4 separate regions of the Homo sapiens genome follow, and regions 2, 3 and 4 are each linked to region 1. The links come from fine-mapping of genetic effects on plasma protein levels. A gene starts in region 1. Each other region holds a variant in brackets. All regions are shown on one strand. Distances are from middle to middle. Region 1 holds the start of PON3 (paraoxonase 3). Region 2 holds the start of PON1 (paraoxonase 1). Region 3 overlaps PON3 (paraoxonase 3). Region 4 has its middle 8.0 kb from the start of PON1.

What was found. PIP is the chance, under the fine-mapping model, that this variant and not a neighbour inherited with it causes the effect. Protein levels are from antibody-based Olink assays in UK Biobank. Linkage for the fine-mapping came from a reference panel and not from the study's own genotypes, which makes the PIPs less certain.
Region 2: its variant is fine-mapped to the plasma level of the PON3 protein (UK Biobank, PIP above 0.99).
Region 3: its variant is fine-mapped to the plasma level of the PON3 protein (UK Biobank, PIP above 0.99). The variant lies in the coding sequence of PON3. If it changes the protein, the assay may bind it differently, which can mimic a change of level.
Region 4: its variant is fine-mapped to the plasma level of the PON3 protein (UK Biobank, PIP above 0.99).

The regions. Positions count from the first base shown.
Region 1 is chr7:95,393,208-95,398,554 of GRCh38, forward strand. It overlaps PON3 (paraoxonase 3), which reads right to left and starts at 3,168. Exons shown (of 9, transcript NM_000940.3): 1 at 3,070-3,168; 2 at 1,437-1,507. The coding sequence starts at 3,143. LOC107986822 (a long non-coding RNA gene) reads left to right here and starts at 3,265. Exons shown (of 2, transcript XR_007060439.1): 1 at 3,265-3,821.
Region 2 is chr7:95,322,777-95,328,123 of GRCh38, forward strand. It overlaps PON1 (paraoxonase 1), which reads right to left and starts at 1,756. Exons shown (of 9, transcript NM_000446.7): 1 at 1,626-1,756. The coding sequence starts at 1,699. RefSeq lists a silencer at 1,700-1,879. The variant C/G (reference allele first, on the strand shown) is at 2,608.
Region 3 is chr7:95,357,654-95,363,000 of GRCh38, forward strand. PON3 (paraoxonase 3) reads right to left here. Exons shown (of 9, transcript NM_000940.3): 7 at 5,107-5,188; 8 at 4,709-4,837; 9 at 2,219-2,478. The coding sequence ends at 2,320. Among named protein-coding and RNA genes, the nearest start is that of PON1, 36 kb to the left of the region's middle. The variant C/T (reference allele first, on the strand shown) is at 2,414.
Region 4 is chr7:95,329,850-95,335,196 of GRCh38, forward strand. No RefSeq gene overlaps it. Among named protein-coding and RNA genes, the nearest start is that of PON1, 8.0 kb to the left of the region's middle. The variant TAACA/T (reference allele first, on the strand shown) is at 2,679.

The sequences.
Region 1 (5,347 bases):
AGCTATCTCATCACATTCTAATAAATAAGTCACAGTTCTTGGCCCTAGGGAGTTTACAATCTGATAGTGAAAGAGAGAACACTGCTAGCTATAATACAAGGCATGTGGCAGGTGTCATAAGTGAATCGGAGCTTCAGAGTGCTGTGAGAGTTCAGAGGAAGGAGATGAATTTTGCAGCTGATTTTAGTAAGCAGAGACAGAGGAATCAGTAAGTTTGGAGGGAATTTCATAAGCAAAGGTGAGAAGGTGAAAGAACATATTCCCAGAACAGGGAACACAATCTAGCCTGATTTTATTTTATTTTTCTGTTAGCAATGTCAGGAAGAATTGGAGCTGTGGAGCCCAAATAAGCAGGTGTGGCATTAACTAGTAGGTGAGATTAGCCCATGTCTCACGTAGAAGCATGAGGGACAAGCGGGGAACAATGGTTCCTGGATTTTGAACTGAATCTTTTGAGAATGGGGGTACCATACATAGGAAAAGTCTAGAAGCAGAGCTGGTTGTGGGTGGGAGGATGAGGGAGAAAACGACAGAAATGTAAAATAGATTTCAGCTTAGGGAGAGTTTGAGCTGGAGCTGCCCTTTAACTGACTAAAAAAGAAGGGCTGCAGTTTGAAAGGTTAGGGACTGGGCCATGGATTTTTTATGAATTTTTTTAAAAGAAGGTAGGTAGGCTGTGAGGTTCCTTCGTTTATTATTTTTTTTAAGACAAAGTCTCGCTCTGTCGCCAGGCTGGAGTACAGTGGCGCGATCTCAGCTCACTGCAACCTCCGATGACTCCCTGGTTCAAGTGATTCTCCTGCCTCAGCCTTCCGAGTAGCTGGGATTACAGGCACACGCCGCCAACATGCCCGGCTAATTGTTATATTTTTAGTAGAGATGGGGTTTCACCATGTTGGCCAGGATGGTCTCGATCTCCTGACCTCATGATCCGCCCCCCTCGGCCTCCCAAGTGCTGGGATTACAGGTGTGAGCCACTGCGCCCAGCCTGCTGTGAGGTTCTTGAGGGGAGGGGCTGAGTCATATTATTTGAAAAAAAATAACACTTGAAGCCAGGAATGACAATAAGGAAAGGGAGGGAGGAAGGAAAGAAGAAAGAAGCAAAAAAAGGAAAGGTAACAGAGGACAAGGAGGAGAGTGAAATACCACAGATGGGAAAGGAGAAGCATTCAGTGAGGGGAAAACCAGGGAGTGGTCAATGACATTCTTTAGGTAATGTGGAGAGATGTCAGTAAGGAAATGTGCTGAGAAAAACCCACAAAGAATGTCATTTAGTACACCCCTGAAGACCTTGCATGGGGCAGAGTGGACGGGGCAGATGTCCCACTGGGAGGGCTTAAGTAGTGACAGGTAATTAAATGAGCTGGTAGGGCTCAGTCAGGTGGATGACGACCAAGAAGCTGTGCTGGCTCCTCTTGGTACTGTCACATACATACCAAGTTCCTCAATAAGGTGGCAGTTTTCAGGTTCTACTGGCTCCACTTCTCGAGAGGCATTCACCCTTTCTCTGTAGAAGATAAAACCCAACCCTGGAAGTCAAGGCACAGCATTCAAAATGTATGTTTAAATGTGGACTTCAATCATCTTCGTGTTGGTTAACTATCTTTATCATAATTTATGAATGACATAACAAGTAAGTAGGTACTTCCTTTCATGTTTATTTACATAATGTAGACATTATGTGGGTATTTTACCTATATCAGCTAACCTTACCCAGTTATTGCTGAAAAACTGTATAATATGATTCAACATGGAAAATTCTGCTGCCCAAATAAAAGACACTATTTAATAGTATGAGTAATTGAACAATATTATTAATTTAAATGCACGAAATAGCCCTAATTTTCTAAAGTATCGTCTGTTATAAATCTGCACTTAATCCCCTACAGTCTTGCCCTTTGAACTTTTCCTTCCAAACTGCTTTCCCAAAATTCAACAGGGTCTCCTAATAGTCAAACTCTATCACTTTTGCTTTAATTTTTAAATTTTATGCTGACTTACTCCGCAAGTATGTAAATTCATTAAACCAACCACAATTTAAACAATTGGCCGATTTATTTTTCAACACAATTTTCTTGTTTCCAGAGTGAAAAGGAATGTTTCCACATTCTTCTAATATCAGGGATAATTTAAAATTTTTATTAAAGTATATTCAGAAAGACTCAATACTTATCTTACAGTCATTTATTTAAAAAAATACCCTTAGATCTACTTTATTATTATTACTATTATTTTATGATTCTCCATGTGGTTGCACTGGGAGCAAATGTAACAATAAAACTCTCAAACTGGAAGTATTACTAATAGGCACCAGGCACCTCAACAGATTCTAGACGTGATCCTCTAAGAAGACCAGCTTCAACTAAGAGAAATACATAAACACTCAAAGACAACTGAAAGCAAGCAGAGGCTTTCGATCCACTCATGAATGTGTATTATCACTTAAAGGTTCTTCTTTCTAGCCCAGTATTGACTTTTCCTGAGACATTTCTAGGCTGGCTATCACCATTGTATCTTCCACTTCAAAAGGTCAAATGCCTACAAAATGCCAGTTACCGCCTGCAGGTTTCAGCTGGTTTGCCCTGCTGTCTGGCCAGCTCTTTAAATCTAGGATAGGTTCCATAACCCAGTACTTCTGCATGGTTAGCCAGACCTGGGCAATGTCTCAGTCAGCCGTAAACATCCAACTGGTAGCCTGATCCTCTCTCCCAAGTCCGGCGTTTCCAATGGACGTCCTTTTTTCCCAAGCAGAATGTTGAGGGCGAGCTGGGAAAGGGGTCATCACGTTCAGAAAGTAAAAGGGGGTCATGACCTTCAGAAAGCAAAGTGGGGGATCATAACCTTCAAAAAATAAATGGGACTAATTCGGCTCGGCAGTCTTTGGAAACGCAAGTAGCTCACTTTCCCCATAAGCGAGTCTCAAGGGGCGGTTTGCTGGGTGAGATGGAGGAGTGAGGTTCCAAAGCTGCTCTTTCCTACCCGCTAGGAAGGGGGCGCCAGGCAGCCCCTGACCTCACTTGGAAGAGGAGAGAAAGAGAGTCGAAGACGCCCTGTCAAGATGCCACTCACCTAAACGCCAGGAACATCTCCCCGACTAAGGACAGGCCGACCCCCAGCAGGACCAGCGCCACGAGCTTCCCCATGGTCTCGGGGTGCCCAGCGGCGACTGCGCGGCGCCGAGAGCTCTCGGGGGCGCGGCGGGCGGTTCCTGCCTCGCGTACGGATTGGGGCCCGCTCGGCCCCGCCCGCACACGCCTCCTACTTACCTGAGCGGCCCGGGTGCCGCAGCAGGGCGCTGACGAGTCCCGCCGAGCCCCGCCGCCCGGGTTCAAGGCCGCCTTCACGCCCACGATTCCTTGTTTTTTGGGCAGAGGTCAAGGCTCAACGGAGAGGGAGCCCGGGACCGAGTTGTGGTGGGAGTTTGCTCCTAACACCCGCGAAATCCTACCTCAATTCCTCAGATGGCCTGAGGGAGAAACCGGAGGGCCCGGGAATGGCGGGGAGCTCCAGTTCAGAGCCGGAACTCCGGACTTCTGCAAGGCCAGACGTGAGGCGACACTGAATTGCTCCCGAGACGCGGGAAGGGCGAAGGCAATCGAAGCGAAGAGCTTTAACTCATCTTCTCCAGGATTTGGGGCACGGGAACCTGTCTCCTGACCTTCGTGCCTTACCTCGGAGTGTGCTGCCCAGACGGACTTGTGAATAGCTGCGTCTGTCCCCATAGTTAACGGGAGAAGGAAACACCAGGAGAAAAGAAGGAAAAGACAGGAAACGGGAAGAGGAGCAGAGGCGAGGAAGGGGAAGGTCATTTCCTTGGCAGGGTAGGCCCTCTTTCTTCTAGGTCTTGAGTTCCTGCCAGGCAAGAAATGCTCTTTCCCCTCTCCTGATGAACACCAGGTTGGAGGGGGAGGAACTGAAGATGCGGGAAGACTTGGGGAGTTCGGGCAAAGTAGCACATTCAAGCATGATCTATTTTTATTTACGGACAGAAAGAAATATTAGTTCTGTTAGGTTCCACCGAGTAAACTATTTGTTGAGAGAGCAAGATTTGCCAATCCTGGGGGTATTAAGGAAAGAAAAGGTGGTCCCTGACCTATGGGATACATGATTCTAGTATGAATACGTAATTACAGGATGAATAATGAAGCCCACCGCTTATGCAGTACTGACTGTGTGCTTTGCCTGTGCTGACACCTATGTTAACGCATTTAATTATCAACACAATCTCTGGAGTGTGGGTAGCCTTACCCCAATTTTACAGGTGAGACCTGCAGCACAGATTGCTTATGTGGCTTGCTGTAGGTCAGGCAGCTGTCAAGCAGCAGACTCCAAAATCTGGGCCCTTAACTGAGCTGCCTCTACCATGCTGCCTCTAGAAAATCTATGGAAGAAGGGTTGTATTAAAAGGACAGTGTAACGTCTTGAATTGTATAGATTAGAGTTCTTGTTAAGATGACTAATGTTAAAAGAGTGCAAGCAGAGGAGGAATCGAAGTCAGGAGGGCTCACAGAGCTGAGGGGCCTGGGGTGTGATGTAGACATGCATGCAGGGTTTGGGAGTCAGGCTGCCTGGGTTTGGATCCAGCCTAGATAAAGTACTCAGCTTTATTGAGCTACAGATTCCTCTTCTGTAAAAGAACGTCCACCTCATAGGTAGCTTAAAATTAAATGTGATAATGAGTGTCAAGTGCTCTGCACTGTGCTTGATACGTTTTATGAAGTCAGTAAAGATTAACCACTAATTAATTCTGAACTTTGCTTGAGATTGTAGGCTCCTGTGGGAAGGACTCCATCGCATTGATCACTGGGTTTTCCCGTGCCATCCATAGAACTTTGTGCTTAATAATGACTCAATAAATATGATTAGATGGATGGATGTAAAATATGGACTTGGGAGAAAGAAAAATTAGAAGAATAAAAAATAAATGGAATGAATAATGAAATAATAATAGTCATATTATTATTTCACTCAGCGTTTGCATGCCTTGTCACATTACTTCTTATTAACCTTACCTACAAAGAAGTAAAGTGAATTGCTTGCTGCAAGTTTGATGGGACTAAAAAGAAGGAAAGTGAGGCTTTGAGGCTTAGAGAGGTAAAGTAATAATTCACTTAAGGTTACATAACTAAGTGTCAGTGCCTCCATCTGGACTCAGATCAGGTGACTCTAGAGCTCATGTTCCTTATCACTGTGTTTGCAGCATAGCATGAAGAAGGGGGTAAAGAAAGAAGCGTATTCTTGGGCAATTGATTGAAGTTCTGTGTTAGCTATAATTTGTTTAAAAATTCTTCACTTTAGGCAGAGGAGTCTCTGTGTGTGTGTGTGCATGTGTGTGTGTGTGTGTGTG
Region 2 (5,347 bases), 70 kb before region 1:
CGTGGGTGGGAGACTCGTGGTCTAGGGGAACTCTCTCAGTTCTTTTCTCTGTACTGCTCCCACCTGGGAAACTCAGAAATCTCTTGAGGCATCCCTTGTGTGCTTCCTTAAGTTCCCTCCAGCCCAGGCATATATAGCTTCCTGTGAGCCGCACACACATACACTCCAAGTCTGAAGAAAAAAGGATGCATCTATCCTGGGGATTTGGCTTGCTCCTGATGCAGGCCTCATGATATCATCTCTTGCCTTCTCTCCCTGGGGCAGATTCATGATCTCTAATCCCCCAGGGAGTTTGTTCCATGACGCTGGTTCTGATTCAATAGTGTGGGGTAGGGCTTGAGATTCTGCCTGTACAGGGAGCCCCTAGGTGATGCTCAGGCATCTGGTCCCCAGACCCAGTTGAGTAGCTAGGTTTTAGGGGTTTCCAACAGTGGGTAAAATTTCCCTTCCTTCCTCTGTCTGGGTCACTCCAGGAGGCTCAGCAACCCATCCTTTATCTATATATTTTTATCTATACCTATAATCTCCTTTGGCAGCCACCAGCACTGTGATTAATAAAAACTCACAAACTGTAATTTTTACATGATTTAAAAGCCAAGAATACCAACTGCTTCTTACTTTTTTTCTGCACTCTGTAACTTAAAAAAATTAGAAAAACATCCACAATAAATAGTAAAAACCCATTCTGAATGTAAGCTTCTAATTAGTCCATAAGCTCATATAATTTTTTTATATTTAATTTTTATTAGGTTTTACTTTAAAGTAAATAAGGCATTGTTGACTAAGCCTTAGAGACTAGGATGATCTGTAGACTTTGAACTCCTGTTAAAAGTTATGAAACTTTTGATACATTCTTAAAATATCCCCACCCCCCTTGTATAGCACTTAACCCTTTATTAAATACTTTAAAGGGAAGCAGGGAACTAACATTTATTGAATAGCTACTCTGTCGCAGGCAGTGTGTATTACTATTTCCAGTTTACTGAAGCAGCTAAGGTTAGAGATGTAAAGTGATTTGCCCAAATCGCATACTCATGGGGCAGAGCTAAACCCCAGGACATCAGATGCTGGCTCCAGGGTTCCCTCTTCCCCGCCTGCCCCCACTGAAGCGAACCATCACAGCACACGTTAGCTCCACCTGCTCGGGTCCACACGCAGTTTTGCTGTGGCCCTCAGTAGCCTCAATTTGAGAATCTTCAAGCCTGGAAGGTTTGCCATGGCCAGGCAGTCAAGGCGCAGAAGCGACAGGGGCTCCTTTCTCTAATACACAAAATATCAGGAGAACCCCCAGCCAGGTTAGTTTGTTTCTTTCCAGGTTGAGAAGTGAATCTGTAGCCAGGGCACACAAATCTTCATGAAAAATTAATTCGTGTATGCTGACAACCTGGGCACTCACACCCCTGGCAATTGCCTCCTTATCCCATGTCTCAGGCCATGAGCAAGAGTTTGTTTTCAAGTGACACATGACGGCTGGACAAACATTTATGAAACCCCCGCAGAGTGTGCATCTAGCACCTGCTTGTAAATGTTCTGTTAACAGCCTGGACCCAACTTTCTGGGGGCTCGTGGAGCTGGCAGGGAGTGAGGAGGACGAAGGCTGCAGCCCTCACCACAACCCAACTTACTGGTAAGAAGACTGGTGGTTCCTGAAGAGTGCCAGTCCCATCCCCAAGAGGGTGAGCGCAATCAGCTTCGCCATGGTCGGGGATAGACAAAGGGATCGATGGGCGCAGACACCGACGGGCTAGGAGGCTCTGCCTGCCTGCAGCCGCAGCCCTGCTGGGGCAGCGCCGATTGGCCCGCCCCGCCCCTCCCCGCCGGGTCGGCAGCTAGCTGGGCCGACCAGGTGCACAGAAGGCGTGGCTTGCGGTCAGCCCCCACCGCAGGAGCTCAGCACTTTCAGCCAAAAGTCCCATTTTGCTCCTTCCAACTGTAAAGAGAGAAGACAGAGAATAGGTGCCTAGTCCAGTCGGGGAGGGGAAATCAAACAAGCTGAAGTAAATTGCCATGGGAAAGGACAGTCAAGCTTTGGTGAGCACTCACTTTGTGCCATCCCGGTCCTTGCGTCTCAGAGAGATTCAGTAGCTTGATCATGGTGACAGCCAAAAAGGTGCGGAAGGGAGGGCTGTAGTAGGAACCCCTAAGATCTAACTGTTCTCACCAGGCTACTACTCTGTGTCACCTTCCAACATCTGGATTTCAAGCATTTTTCTCTCAACACCACTCTGACTTTAGAGTTCACTCAAGTACATCCCCCACACAGCTCATTCATTTCCTCATGCAGCTGGCATTTATTGAGTACCTACTATGTGCCAGGCGCTGTTCTAGATGCTACAGAACAGGACAAAACGTCTTCCTCAAGCTTACGTTCATTCCAATGGGGGGAGTCAATTGAGAAATCAGCAAAACATGTCACTGTGGCATATATAATGCTCTAGGTGATGCATGTGTGTGTTATGGATATGCACATATGTTATGGAGAAAACACATAAAGCAAGAAAGGGGATAAGGAATACCCTCTGCTGAAGAATAGCAGTCAGAGAAGTTCTCACTGATAATGGGGCATTTGAGTAAAGACCCAAAGGAGGTGCCTCTGTACAACCATGT[C/G]TCTCTTCTCTGCTGTCTGCTGTTACTGTGAATGATTTGCTCCATGTCTCTTTCCTTCTCAAGGCTTTTGGTCCCAGTTATACCTTCTCTCTTCTGCAATATCTGTCCTTTCATCTCTTGTGGAATATTGCCAGCCAATACCAACATGCTTTACTTATCACCTTTAGCTTTCTGGGGGGAAGCTTCTTTGGCCTCACATTGTAACTACTGCCCTCTCTCTCTGCTCCTTCTGAACACTTGCTCTTAAGCCTTGAGCTACTATGTAAAAAACCTGACCACTCCACTGGAGCATTCACATGAAAGGCCATGAACATATGGAGAGGGAAAGTGGTCAGCTGAAGCCAACCTCTTAACCATCGGCACCAAGGAAGCAGAAATGAATGAAGTGGGCTATTAGACAAGCCCAGCCACCACAGCCTGGCCACCAACTGAATACCACTGGCTAAGCCACCCTGGTTAACACCAGGTGGAGCAGAAGAATCTACCTAAGAAGTAGAACCAATGAATCCAAAAGAGAAGAGTATTCGAAAAGAGGGGGAATGATGATCTGTGTCCAATGTGGCTATGAGTTGAGTATGCTTATGGCAGAGAAGTAACTACTGAATTAGATAACATGGATACAATAGGTGGTTTAATAAGAACAAATTCTACACGAGTCAAAAGAACACAAACCATATTAGAATGGGTTAAGGTGAGAATGGAAGATTGGAGATATTTCACAAGGTTAGCTGCTAAACCAAACAATCATTTTCTTATGCTCATAAACAGTGCATAAGGAATTTGGGCAGGGCCCAGCAGGCTACCTGGTTGACATGCCCACTGGGGTGTTTAACAGTCTTTTCAAAATGTGTCCAAAGGAAAACTCTTAATCCCCCCTGCCCAAACTCACACTTCAATAAATGGCATCACTACCATCCAGTTGCTCAAGTCCAAAATCTACATATCTTCTTTCATCCATCTCTTTTCCTCACACCCTCTTGCACCAAACAGATCAGTCAGTCCTATAGGCTCTATTTTGTATTAGTTATCGTATGCTGCATAACAAATTATACTAAAGTCTCACCATTAAAAACAACAAACATTTATTATCTCATCATTTCTGTGGGTCAGGAATTCAGGCATGGCACAGCTAGATACCTCTGGCTCAAGGTCTCTCATGAGTTAGCAGCTGAGCTGTCAGTGTGAATTGCCATCTTATCTGAAGGCTCAACTGGAGTGGGTGAAGGAGGTGAGATCAGCCTCCAAGATTACTCACACAGCTCTTTAGAGACTTCAGTCCCTTGATACTTCAGTCCCTTGATACGTGGGCCTCTCTACAGAACTACAACAGAACAAGGTAGCTGACTTTCACTAGAATGAGCAATCTGAAAGAGTGAGATAGCATGCCTCCAAAATGGATGCCACAATCTTTTATTAACCTAACTTCTGAAATGACATCCCCTAACTTCTGTCATATTCTGTTTGTTAGATGCAAACTGCTAACTCCAGTTTACATTCAAGGTGAGAAGAATTAAACTTCACCTTTTGAGGCTCCCCTTCATATGCCTTGAGGCATATTGATATGGTTTGGATGTTTGTCCCCTCCAAATCTCATGCTGAAATGTGATCCCCAATGGTGGAGGTGGGACAGGGTAGGAGGTGTTGGGTCATGGTGGCAGATCCCTCTGAATTGTCTTGGTGCCATCCTCATGGTAATGAGTGAGTTCTCTTGCTCTGAGTTCACGTGAGATTTGGTTGTTTAAAAGACTATAGCACCTCCCCCCACCCCCACTCCCTCTCTTGCCATGTGACATGCTAGTGATGCCCATCACCTTCCCCCATGATTTTAAGCTTCCTGAGGTCCTCACCAGAACCTGAGCAGATGTTGACACCATGCTTCCTGTACAGCCTACAGAACCATGAACCAATTAAAACTTTTTTTATATAAATTACCCAGCCTCAGGTGTTTATAGCAGTGCAAAAATGCCTAGCCCACATATCAAAGAATGTATAGATAGCTCTTTGAAACCACTACAACTTTCAAATAATCTTGAATCAACCCAATTTTCCCCATTTCCACTGCCATTACTCTGGTTCAGGCTGCTATCATCTCCAGGCTAGAACAGATTCTCCATTGTTCTCTCCCTAATCACCCTCCCCACAAATCCATTCTTCTTACCAAGGCCCACGTAATCCTTTAAAAATGTAAATCAGATTATATCATTTCCATGCTTAAAATCCTCCCTCTTGTGGCTTCTCATTTTATTTTCTTATTGTGGCCTGAAAGGCCCCACAAGATCTGGGCTGTGCTTATCATCTGACCTAATTTCTTATAATTCACTCAGCATAACGTTGCAGCAACATTAGCTTTTGTACCATTCGGTACACACACCAAGTTTATTGCACTTCACCATCATTGTCTTTGCTATTCTTTGGCTAGAATCCTCTTCCCATCCCCCTGACTTAACTTCCCAACTACCCCTTGCATTTCTCTTTCTCTTCATTCAGGTCATAGCTTAAATGTCACTTCTTCTGAGAGGCCTTTCCCAATATTACCATCTAGAGTAGACTTCCTCCACACCCTCTTCTCCTGAACCCTCTCTCTGCACCAGTTACTAAGACCTCAGTGCTGATATCAAATGGTTAGCACCAGTACAGAATTACTGGTTATTAGAATAATGACATATTTCTACAGTGGTTGTTAAATAACCACTTCCTCAGACCCTCCAAGAGGTCCTCCACAATACTGACCATTCTCTCT
Region 3 (5,347 bases), 36 kb before region 1:
TGTTCCAATTCTGAAAAAGCTAAAACCATGAAGTGTAACAGAACTTATTTTTTCCACAGCCTCATGTAATTTTGTTTTTGACTCCCCACACATTGTTTGGAAGCACAAATCAATATATAAGGCAATTCCAAAGCCCCCTCCCAATCCTGGGAGTTTTCTCTAAAATCCAGCAGGGAGAGCTAAAGCATCATGGGAGACAGCTGGTCTTTGATGTCACCGTCTAAACTTCGGTCTTCATTTGAATCAGATGACTACTTATTTTCTTTTTCCTGACAGCAAGACCTTTTTAAGTCTATCAGTTCTTTCTCTGCTAACCCCCATACCCCTCTGGGCACGTGGGAATTTGCTTCTGTGCCAAGTTCAAGTGTAGGTGTGATGCCATCCCCAGTAAATCACACTAGCATTTCTTCTCTGTTTTTTCATCAGGCTGAGCACAGAGAATCCCTAAGGCTTTGTGACTTTCCCAGGCCCTCCCAGGGAAAGGACACATTAGTCCCTCAGCAATCAGATCACCCAAATTTCCTGAGGAAAGTTTTATCCCCCAGCCTTTCTAACTTGGCCTGAGGAGAAGGCAGAGCAGGATCAATTCTCAGGAACTTACCAGCATCTAAATTATCTTTGTCTTTTCCTATCTCTCTTTATTCTCCCCTAGTCTGGTAAACATTATAATATAGTAAGTATGAGGGCTAGGGACTAAAACAAAGACTATTATATTCTTCAAAACTGACTCTACTTATTTTCTTAAATTATGTCTTTAATGTCTTTTTTATTCTGTGTTCTCTTGATAGCTAGGCTTTTGAAATTTAAAATCTAATAACTGACTATAGCATTCTGCTGAATGTTTATTCCTCTTTGAAGCAATGAAAACTACAAAGTCTTATAGTCAAAATCACAATGGGTTACACTGGAAAAAAGGAGAATTTTACCCTGCAAAACTTTTCAGCAAACCTACATAAAACTGAGCAATGTTCTTTTGCATATAAAATGGTCTCCCCAAAAGAGAAAAAGCATCAACCAACCACTCCCGAATAAAAGTCACAAAAAGGGAAGGGAGGTGCTTGGGTGCTCTGACTTTAATTAATGGTTTGTTTGCTAAAGGTTGTACTGGTTTGGGACCAAAAAAGGACACTTCTATTCATTCTCATCAAATTAAGTTTAAGGTTGGTCTTCAAGATAGGACATTAGGCCAGAACCATTCTACTCATTTCAGATTCCTTAGGGCCAAATTTACTGGAGGTTGCTTAATAACTGTTTATTGAATAAACCAGAAGGGTAAGATAAAGGCAGTCAAAGATAACTGCCTTAAGGCTTCATCTAAGATTCAGAGCCCAGTAGGTTAGCAAAACAGTTGTCCCTCAATAACCATGGAGGATTGATTCCTGGACTCTGATGGATACCAACATCCACGGATGCTCAAGTCCCTGATATAAAATGGCATAGTATTTGCATATAACCTATGTTCATTCCCCTATGTAGGTACTCTCTAGATCACTTATAATACCTAATATCATCTAAATATTATGTAAATATGTGTTATACTGTGTTGTTTAGGGATTAATGACCAAAAAAAGTCTGTACATGTTCAGTACGGATGCAACCATCCATTTTTTTCCAAATATTTTCAATCTCTGGTTGGTTGAATCCATAGATGTAGAACTCACAGTTACAGAGGGCCAACTGTATTTCAGATACAAGCATCAATACAAATAAGGGCCTATTAGAGATAAGCACTCCCTGCCCTAAGGTAGCCTCTGAGGCCCAACTGTCAGATTTCTCAGAACCCAATTTCCTATGTGTCGGTACCCTGGGAGAATGCAAGTTCTAAGGGCTTTGGGCAATCACATGATGCTAATTCTTTATCTGCAGACTGGTACACTTAATTAACTGTCTGTGCCCAGCACAACTGCGGGGAGAGAACAGGGGTTGTAAATACTTGAACATTAGCTTTTCTCTTGGTCTGGACTGTAGGAGACCCAGAACGTCAAAACTGTAGGAGGAAACTTGGACCCAGTTACCAAGGACCTCTAGGTGAGTCGGAGACCTCACTGGACATAGTCCACATGTTTTATTGTAGAAAGAACATTGGGGCTGCTAACAAAGATCCGTAAAGTTTGGCTTCTTGTTGGACTGTCATTAACCTGACTTGCAATTTGATGGCTATCAAGGAATCTCTGTCTGCTCCTTTACTTCTATCCATAAGAAAAGCCACACTCACTGGTTGGTGTTTGCTATTTACTTACAGTGCCACTTATCATACAATTATCAGTTTACTTTTACAAAATATGTAGACTTTTTTTTTTTTTTTTTACTATCTAGAGTCTAGAGCTCACAGTACAGAGTTTTGTGAAATACGGTGCCTATGAGAATTTTCCCATGGTACACAGAAGCCACAGAGGTGCCCTGAAGCACAGAG[C/T]CATTGTTGGCATACACGGTGCTCACCCTGGGCTTCTCAGACAAAACATTCTGGATGCGAAGTACCTGTCGAGAAAAGATCGTTTATTAGTATATTATGTGAGTAAACACCTGTTTCATGATGTCCTTCCCAAACATTCTAGGATAAATCTATTTTTCAGAAATCAGAAGCTAAAATCTGTATATCTTCAATAAATTGTTCTTCTTCTGATGAAAGTACTAATGTCATAGATATCTATGCACCAAAGTGAACTGGCTTTCTGACATTAGCCAAATTCCTCAGGGATGACTTACACAATTTTTTTAGTGCAGGCATCCCTTACAGAAGGAGTTAAGATGCTCTTATTTAGTTCTCAAGTGGATGGTGGTCCTCCCTCTGTGGGAAGAATCTTGCCTTTGAGATTACAGTATGGGGAGAGAAACAAGACAAAATAATGAAGAAACACCCAGTTATCCAGCCAACCCAACATGGTAACTGATGGGATGGCAGTCATCACAGCTGGAGCCCCTTCACATCTGCAAAGTTGCTAGAAAGCATAAATAATGGATACTACTTTGGAATTTCATTTGACACATCACTGCCTAGTACTGTTATTGATCCCAGGATTAATACACTTAACTTTGCTAATCAGTGTATATTTAAGCACTCAGGCTTCCAAATAGGCTGGATGAAGTTCACTCAAACAAAATAAAATAAAATTTTTATTTTGGAATTAAAGGAAAACAATTAGAAATTTATGAGTTACGAGTCTATATTGATATCTCTTATTAGAACAGAGTTTGTTCTTTTTTTTATCTTAAGGGAGATCCTTCATCTCAGGTTTGTTAGACAAAAATACTTAAGCTTTGATTTCATGTACAAAACATGAGATTCAACCAAAATTAAAGGGTGTCAGTAATTGTGACAAAAAGTCTTATCTAAAATTTTAAAAATAATTCAACTTGAAAATAGAGATACGAAAAAGATCCTAAACAATTCTCCAATAATCCTATGTATCATATTTCATTTCCTTAAGACAGACATTGTGGTTGGGCTTTTAAAGGAAAGTTTTGTCTATCACTCTTAGGGGTACATATCTGAGGCAAGGATTGCTTCCTAGTTTAGGGTAACAATTCTGGTTCTAGGCTTAGGTTGGACTTTTGTTTCTTTTTACATTTCTTGTGTTCTTTTTAAGAAGCTGTGACTAATACATTAATAAAAAAAGAAATAATCATATTTTTAACTGAAAGACAGCAATACTGGAAGTAGAAATAACTGTATGTCCTAATTTACCCACTAGGCCAATTACTGGGTTTGAATTTGAATTTCAGTTTCTCAAATCACCAAATGTGGATTCACACATTTTAATTTTTTTCAAATTGTACTTTCTCAATGAGGCCTACTCTGATCTCTGACTTTAGTAGTAGGACCTGCTCATCCTGCTGCATATAGTAATCCTGATCCCCTTTACTCTGCTGAGCCTTTTTTCCCATAAAATTTGCCATCTTCAAAGTTACTATGTAATTTACTTATTTCTTATGCTTATTGTTCATTGTTTGTCCCCCTTTCTTAAGATCAGGGATCTCTGTATATTTTTTCTGATATATCCTAAACATAAGTACAATGTCTGACACATTACAGGTACTCAATAAATTTTTGTGAATAAATCTCTGAGTATGTGTGCCTAGAATTTATAGCTATATATAAATTCACTAAAGATTTTTAAATTGTTAACCTTAATGCCATAGAAAATGCAGTTGTCTTATAATGTTGTTTTTAATGTAGAAAATTCAATGGATTATGCTATTGTTTTAGAAGAGATATTTTAAAATAACACAAATGATATCTTGAAAATAAGACAATTTTCAACACCATCGTATATGTTAGAACTTACAGGCAAAAACTCATTTTATTTTGAGGCGACAGTTATTTAAATCCTTTAATCTTAGCTTCATGTTGGACAGTGTGAAAGAAGATGGTACCATATACAACTCTCTCTTTGTCTAACTGCAAGACCTACCTGCTCAGAGACTATCTCCTGATTGGAAATACGATATGGCAATCTGGGTCAATATGAATAATCGAGCTTATGTTTTTCCATTATTCCCAACAGCAAGAGTTATTGAAAAGTTAATGGTGGCCTAAAAGAGTTAACGAACCTTATCTCCCTACCTGTCAAAAACTTTACTTTTCTCATACGTAAAATTTCTTTAGTTCTATAACACCAAATGTGACTGGCTTAAATTCTTCCAAGTCACCCCAACAAATTTGTTCTTGCAGCTTTGCCTGTGAGCTCAGAGAGGTATAGGAACTTACTTCTGATCCTGGAGGGTCCTCAGGGTTATAGTTCAGTAGCTTCATAGGATTAGGATGGCATCCTGCCAAAATGTCTCCTGTGGCAGGATCGACAGTCAGGTTATCCACTAAGGTGCCCAACTGTATCACCTTACAACAAAGAGGGAGTAGTGAAGACATTGTCTCAATGATTCCTCGCTTTCTTCCCTATTCATCCCCACAACCCCTACAGCTTCTTCTGGCACCTAAAGTTGGTGTTTTTAGGGGGCTTTGCTTCTGTATTTTAGAAACGCATGCATAATCTCACTGGCATTGCTCTCAAATAGCCATGTTTTCCTCATTCAAGGGGCACATTCCTGGGTCAAGTATGGGACTAAGGTAAGAAGTCAGATTGTGTGGGCCAGACAGGGTACTCTTACCTTCAGTTGAGTTAAATCCCAGTTATCATGTTTTTCCATTATGTGAATGTTCTTAGCTGCTACATCAGCTACATAGACATACCTTTGAAGTAAATGACATTTACACTTAAGCAAGTGGTAATGAGAGACAACACTCACTTTTATTTTGGAGAAGAGGTATAAAAATGCACACTCCTTGAAAGTACCACTGCAATCCTTTTCTAAACCACAGTAAAAGAAGATAATGGGGTAGTATTTTTAA
Region 4 (5,347 bases), 63 kb before region 1:
TATGTACTACTAAAAAAGAAAAACTATAATTAATCTACAACACAATTCTAAGAAACTATTAATTATACAATAATTTCCTATTTCACACATGTTAAAATGTGCAGACAAGAGTATGAGTCCATGCTATGTGAAGATTTTAAATGTTATGAGAAGTTATGAAGGTGTTTTAAACTTAGAATTTTTTTATCACCAGAAATGTATAACCAAACATTTAAAAAGCAAACTTCTTTAAAAACTCAGATCTCACCTTGACTATTAGAATCCCTTTCCTTTCCTCCCTTGATCCTCATGTGCTAAGTATTTATTTGCACATGTTCAAATACTTCTTCCTAAATATATTTGGTAACAATCACATCAACCCATTCTTTTATTTTCCCACAAAAAGCCTAATTCACGGAGTAGTCAGTAAAAACTGTCAATGAATTGGTAGAAAGCCAGAGCCAAGTTTGCCAAGCTTAATTTTGTAGAAGTGCAAAAGGATTGATTGGGTAACTATACCACTTGGTGTTGTTCATCTGCAGAGGATGCTGAGCCCTGTTGGCAGTTGTTGCAATGTTCTCAAGTTTCTGAAAGTGTGAAATTCCAATGTTCTAAGAATGCCAATAATACCATTCTGCATGAGGCAGCTATAGTAAAGCTGGAAGAAAAAAAAACCCAAAAACCCTGGGCTTTAAATACTAAATTCATGGTCACTTCCTGAAAATTCTATAGTAGCAGAAATAACATCTGTAAAATGGAGATAATTCCTGTGGGTTTGCTGTATTAAATTTTTAAAAACCTGTGAAAGCACTATGCAGATATAAAGCAATGGCAGTGCAAAGTACAAGGTACTATCCAAGTCTGGAAGTTAGTTTACAAAATGCTTTTACCTTACATTCTCTCACAAGACCCTGGACAAGGAGATAGGATCAATACGATTATCCCCATTCATACAAAGTCATCCAATTAGGAAGTGTAGGAGCCCTAAGTTTGTATGTCTAGATATGGGCAAACCAAAACTGACGTGCACCTAAAAACAGAAACTGAAAGTACGAAAAGGGAAAGCTAACAGAACTATGTCACTTCACTTCAATTGTCTAAGCACACATCTCAAAAAGCTTAAAAATCCAAAGAAAGGAGAAGGATGGAAATGAAGATAAAATCAGCAATCAATGAAATAAAAAACAAACTTGAAGAGAGACTATCCATTGTATGAAGTGTCATTCAGTTATAAAAAAAGAATAAAGTCCTAATACATGCCACAACATAGATGCACCTTGAAATCATTATGCTAAGTGAAAGAAGCCAAACACAAAAGGCAGCATATTATAGGATTCCATTTACATGAAATAGCCAGAAAAGGCAAATCCATAAAGACAGAAAGCAGATTAGTAGTTGTCAGGAACTGCAGGGGAGAGGAGGATGGGGAATAACTACTTAATGCACATAGGTTTCCTTCTGAGATGGTGAAAAATATTCTGGCGCAAGATCATGGTGATGGTTGAACAATATTGTGAACATACTTAATGCCATTGAATTGTATGTCATTGAATGGTTAAATGATGAATTTTATACTATGTGAAATTTACTACAATAAAAACTTAGGACAAAACATTCAAAAGTTGATTATTGAAAAGACTAATGAAAGATATAAAACTGTGGTAAGACTGACAGAAAGAAAATGAGAAAGAAAACAAATTCTAAATGTGAGAAATAAAGAGGATATTACCGCAGATCCTAAATATGTAACAAAAGGATATTATGAACTACTTTATTCCACTAAATCTGCAAATTTAAATGAAAAGAATGAATTGCTAAATTTATCAAAGCATACACAAGCAGAAACATTTAATTGTAATATTTCTATATTCTTTAAATAAATGTAATCTATACTTTAAAATCCCCCTTAAAGAAATCTTTAGTCCCAGGTAGCTTCATAAGTGAATTATTCCAAACACTTAAGGAAGAAAAAATGCTAAATTTTACACTAACTTTTGGAGAATAAAAAAAGAAGAAATAACTCTCAAGTCTTTCACCAGGTGAATATAACCTTGATACTAAAACCTGACAATTAATTACAAAAAAGGGAAATTAAAATTACAGGCCAATCTTTATTATGAACATGGACATTAATATCTTAAAATATTAGTCAAGTAAGTCCACAATTATAAAAACATAATAATATCATAATCAAGTAAGGTTTATACACCATATGGGAGTTTGGCTTGAAGTTTTAAATCAACATATAATTAACAGAATAAAGGGGAAAAATGATGATCTCAATAGATGCAGAAAAAGTATTTTAAAAATCCAACACTCATTTACAATTAAAAACATTTTTAGTAAACTAGAAAGAGAATGCAAATTTCTTAATCAGGTGAAGAATATTTTGCCAAAGAGAAAAAGTTACAGCAATTTTCACACTCGATGAGAATTTGAAAGCTTTCCCTGGTGATTGAGAAAGGAACAAAGACATTTGTGATTATCCCTTATGCCCAATATTAAACTAAAGGTAAGAAAAAGAAAGAGGAGATGTCAAGGCTGGAAAAGAAGATCTAGAACACTCATTATTTACAGACAATGTGCTTGGTATGTAGATGATACGAAAGACTCTACAGATAAACTTTAAAATAAAAACATAAATTTACTAAGGTAGCTAGCTATAGAGTCAGTATACAGAATCATTTGTTCTTGTGTAG[TAACA/T]AACAATTAGAAAATGAAATTTTAAGAAGATACTATCTACAAGAGCATCAGAACTGCTAAACTCTTAGGATGTAACAGAAGATGTTCAAAATCTCTACACGAAAATCTACAACTTCACTAACAGAAACTAAACATTTAAAGAGACACATATACCAACTTCAGATCTTGGAAAGGTGGCAATTTAATGATGTACATTCTCCCCGCATTGATCTATAAGGAGCTCAATAAAATTCCAACACAAATCCTAGAAAGGTTTTGTACAAATTGGCAATCTGACTCTAAATTTAAGTGAAAATACGAAGAGTTAAGAATATCCATAAAAAATTTTGAGGAAGAACAAATTTGGGGGATTTTAATACCAAAAATCAAGGTTTATTATAAATCTATTATAATTAAAACGCTGTGATTTTGTTGAATGACTGACAAATAATCCAACGGAACAGAACAAAAAGTCCAGATATAGGCCAGGCGCGGTGGCTTACGCCTGTAATCCCAGCACTTTGGGAAGCTAAGGCGGGTGGATCACGAGGTCAGGAGTTAGAGACCAGCCTGGCCAACATGGTGAAACCCCATCTCTACTAAAAATACAAAAATTAGCTGGGCGTGGTGGTGGGCGCCTGTAATCTCAGCTACTCAGGAGGCTGAGGCCAGAGAATCGCCTGAAACCAGAAGGCAGAGGTTGCACTGAGCCGAGATCGTGCCACTGCACTCCAGCCTGTGCAACAAGAGTGAAACTCCATCTCAAAAAAAAAAAAAAAAAGGTCCAGATGTAGACCAACACATAAATGGTTACCTTATTTATGATAAAGTGCCACTGCAATGAGTGGGGAAAAGATTTTCTTTTCAATAAAATGATGCTGTATATATTGGATATACATATGGCCAAAATGAATCTTGATTCCTACTCACAGGACAACCAAAAGTATATTCTGGGTGGATGAAAAATCTAAATGTGAAAAATAACTATAAATATTTTATAAGATCACAAGGAAGCATATTTCATAATTTTGGGGTACATAAAGATTTTTAAAAGAGGATATTCAAAGCAACATTCATAAACAAAAATATTGATGTTAGATTTCATTAAAATTGCAGACTTTCTGTTCATCAACAGAAGTGATTAAGAAAAAGACTCTAAAAAATAGAATATATTTTCAATACATGTATGCACAAAGGATTCATACCTACAAATCAATAAGAAAAATAATGTCAACCTAATTTCTTAAATGAACAAAATGTTAAATATTCACTGCACAAACAAGGATTCCAACTGGCCAACAACCATAAGACAAAGTGTTCAACTCCATTAGTTATCTAAGAAATGCAAATAAAACCACAATGAGATATTCTTACATAACAATCCAAATAGTTAAAAGTTAAAGAAGGAAAACTAATATTATTAAGTGCTGGCAAAGAAATGAAGCAACTAGAACTCTCCAACATTATTCGTGAAGGAGTATGCTGCTACAACCACTTTGGAAAACTGCTTGACAGTACTTGCAAAAGCTGCACATATATGTGATTTATTAATCAGTAATTCCAATTCTATATAGTCAAAAGAAATGTTTACATACATGCATTAAAATACATTTTACAAGAAAATTCATTGCAGTTTATTCATAATGTACAAAAACTTGGATAAATATAAGTGTCTATCAATAGTGGAATGGATAAATTGTGAAATATTCATACAATGAAATACCACACACAGCAAATGAAAAAGAATGAACTACTGCAGCATGCTGCAACAGAGGCTGGTAACAGCAATGGTTTACTGTTTATGTTTAACATTTATTGCTCATGCTACTTGTCCATTGCAAGTTAGCTCTGGCTCTGCTTCTGATTATCACTAATCCAGGGTCCAGTCTGGCAGAGCAAGCTATATCTACAACATTACCAGTCTGGGGGCAAAGAGAAAAGAGACACAGTGAACTACAGTGGCTCTTAAAATTTCTATCTGAAAGTGATCTGTGTTACTTCTACCAGTATTTCATTGGCCAAACTAAGTCACATGGCCATTCCTGAGTTTAATAACACAGAGATGTATACTCAGCCCACTAAGAGTGGCACAGCAAGAAGAGAAATGGAATATATGGAAAACAGTTGTCCAGTGTACCACAAAGGCTGATAAAGTGAGTATCTGGCTCCTGTCTTGGGCAACTTAGATACATATTTGATGTCTGTCTGGTTCCCTAGAATGGGAGACAGAGGAATTCAGAAGCACATGATTTATTGACAGTGCCTGGTAGGAAAAGTCCTGGAAAGTAGTGAGTAAAGCAAGATAAAGATAGGGAAATGATCAAAATGTTTAAACCTATTAATAGTAGGGCACATCTGACTTTATTATTCCCAAAATTTCTATATAGATATTTACTTTCTCTCTCTATGAATACCAGTGGGCTTTTCTAGAATTCATTCATGAACAATTTACTTTCCATTTGCATTTTACCCACAGACAATCTTCAGATTCATGGCAGAAGCCAATTCTTTTTTTCTTTAGAGAAAATTGATAGCAGTCCACAGAATGCTCCATCTATACTTCATTTGATTTTACTTCTTGATAGAATCAATTACATTCTATGGTTTATGTGATTCACCAGTTAGCTGTCAGAAACCACAGAACTCCTCTGGTATGCAAAGCCTGGAGCTTGATGAACACAAGTAT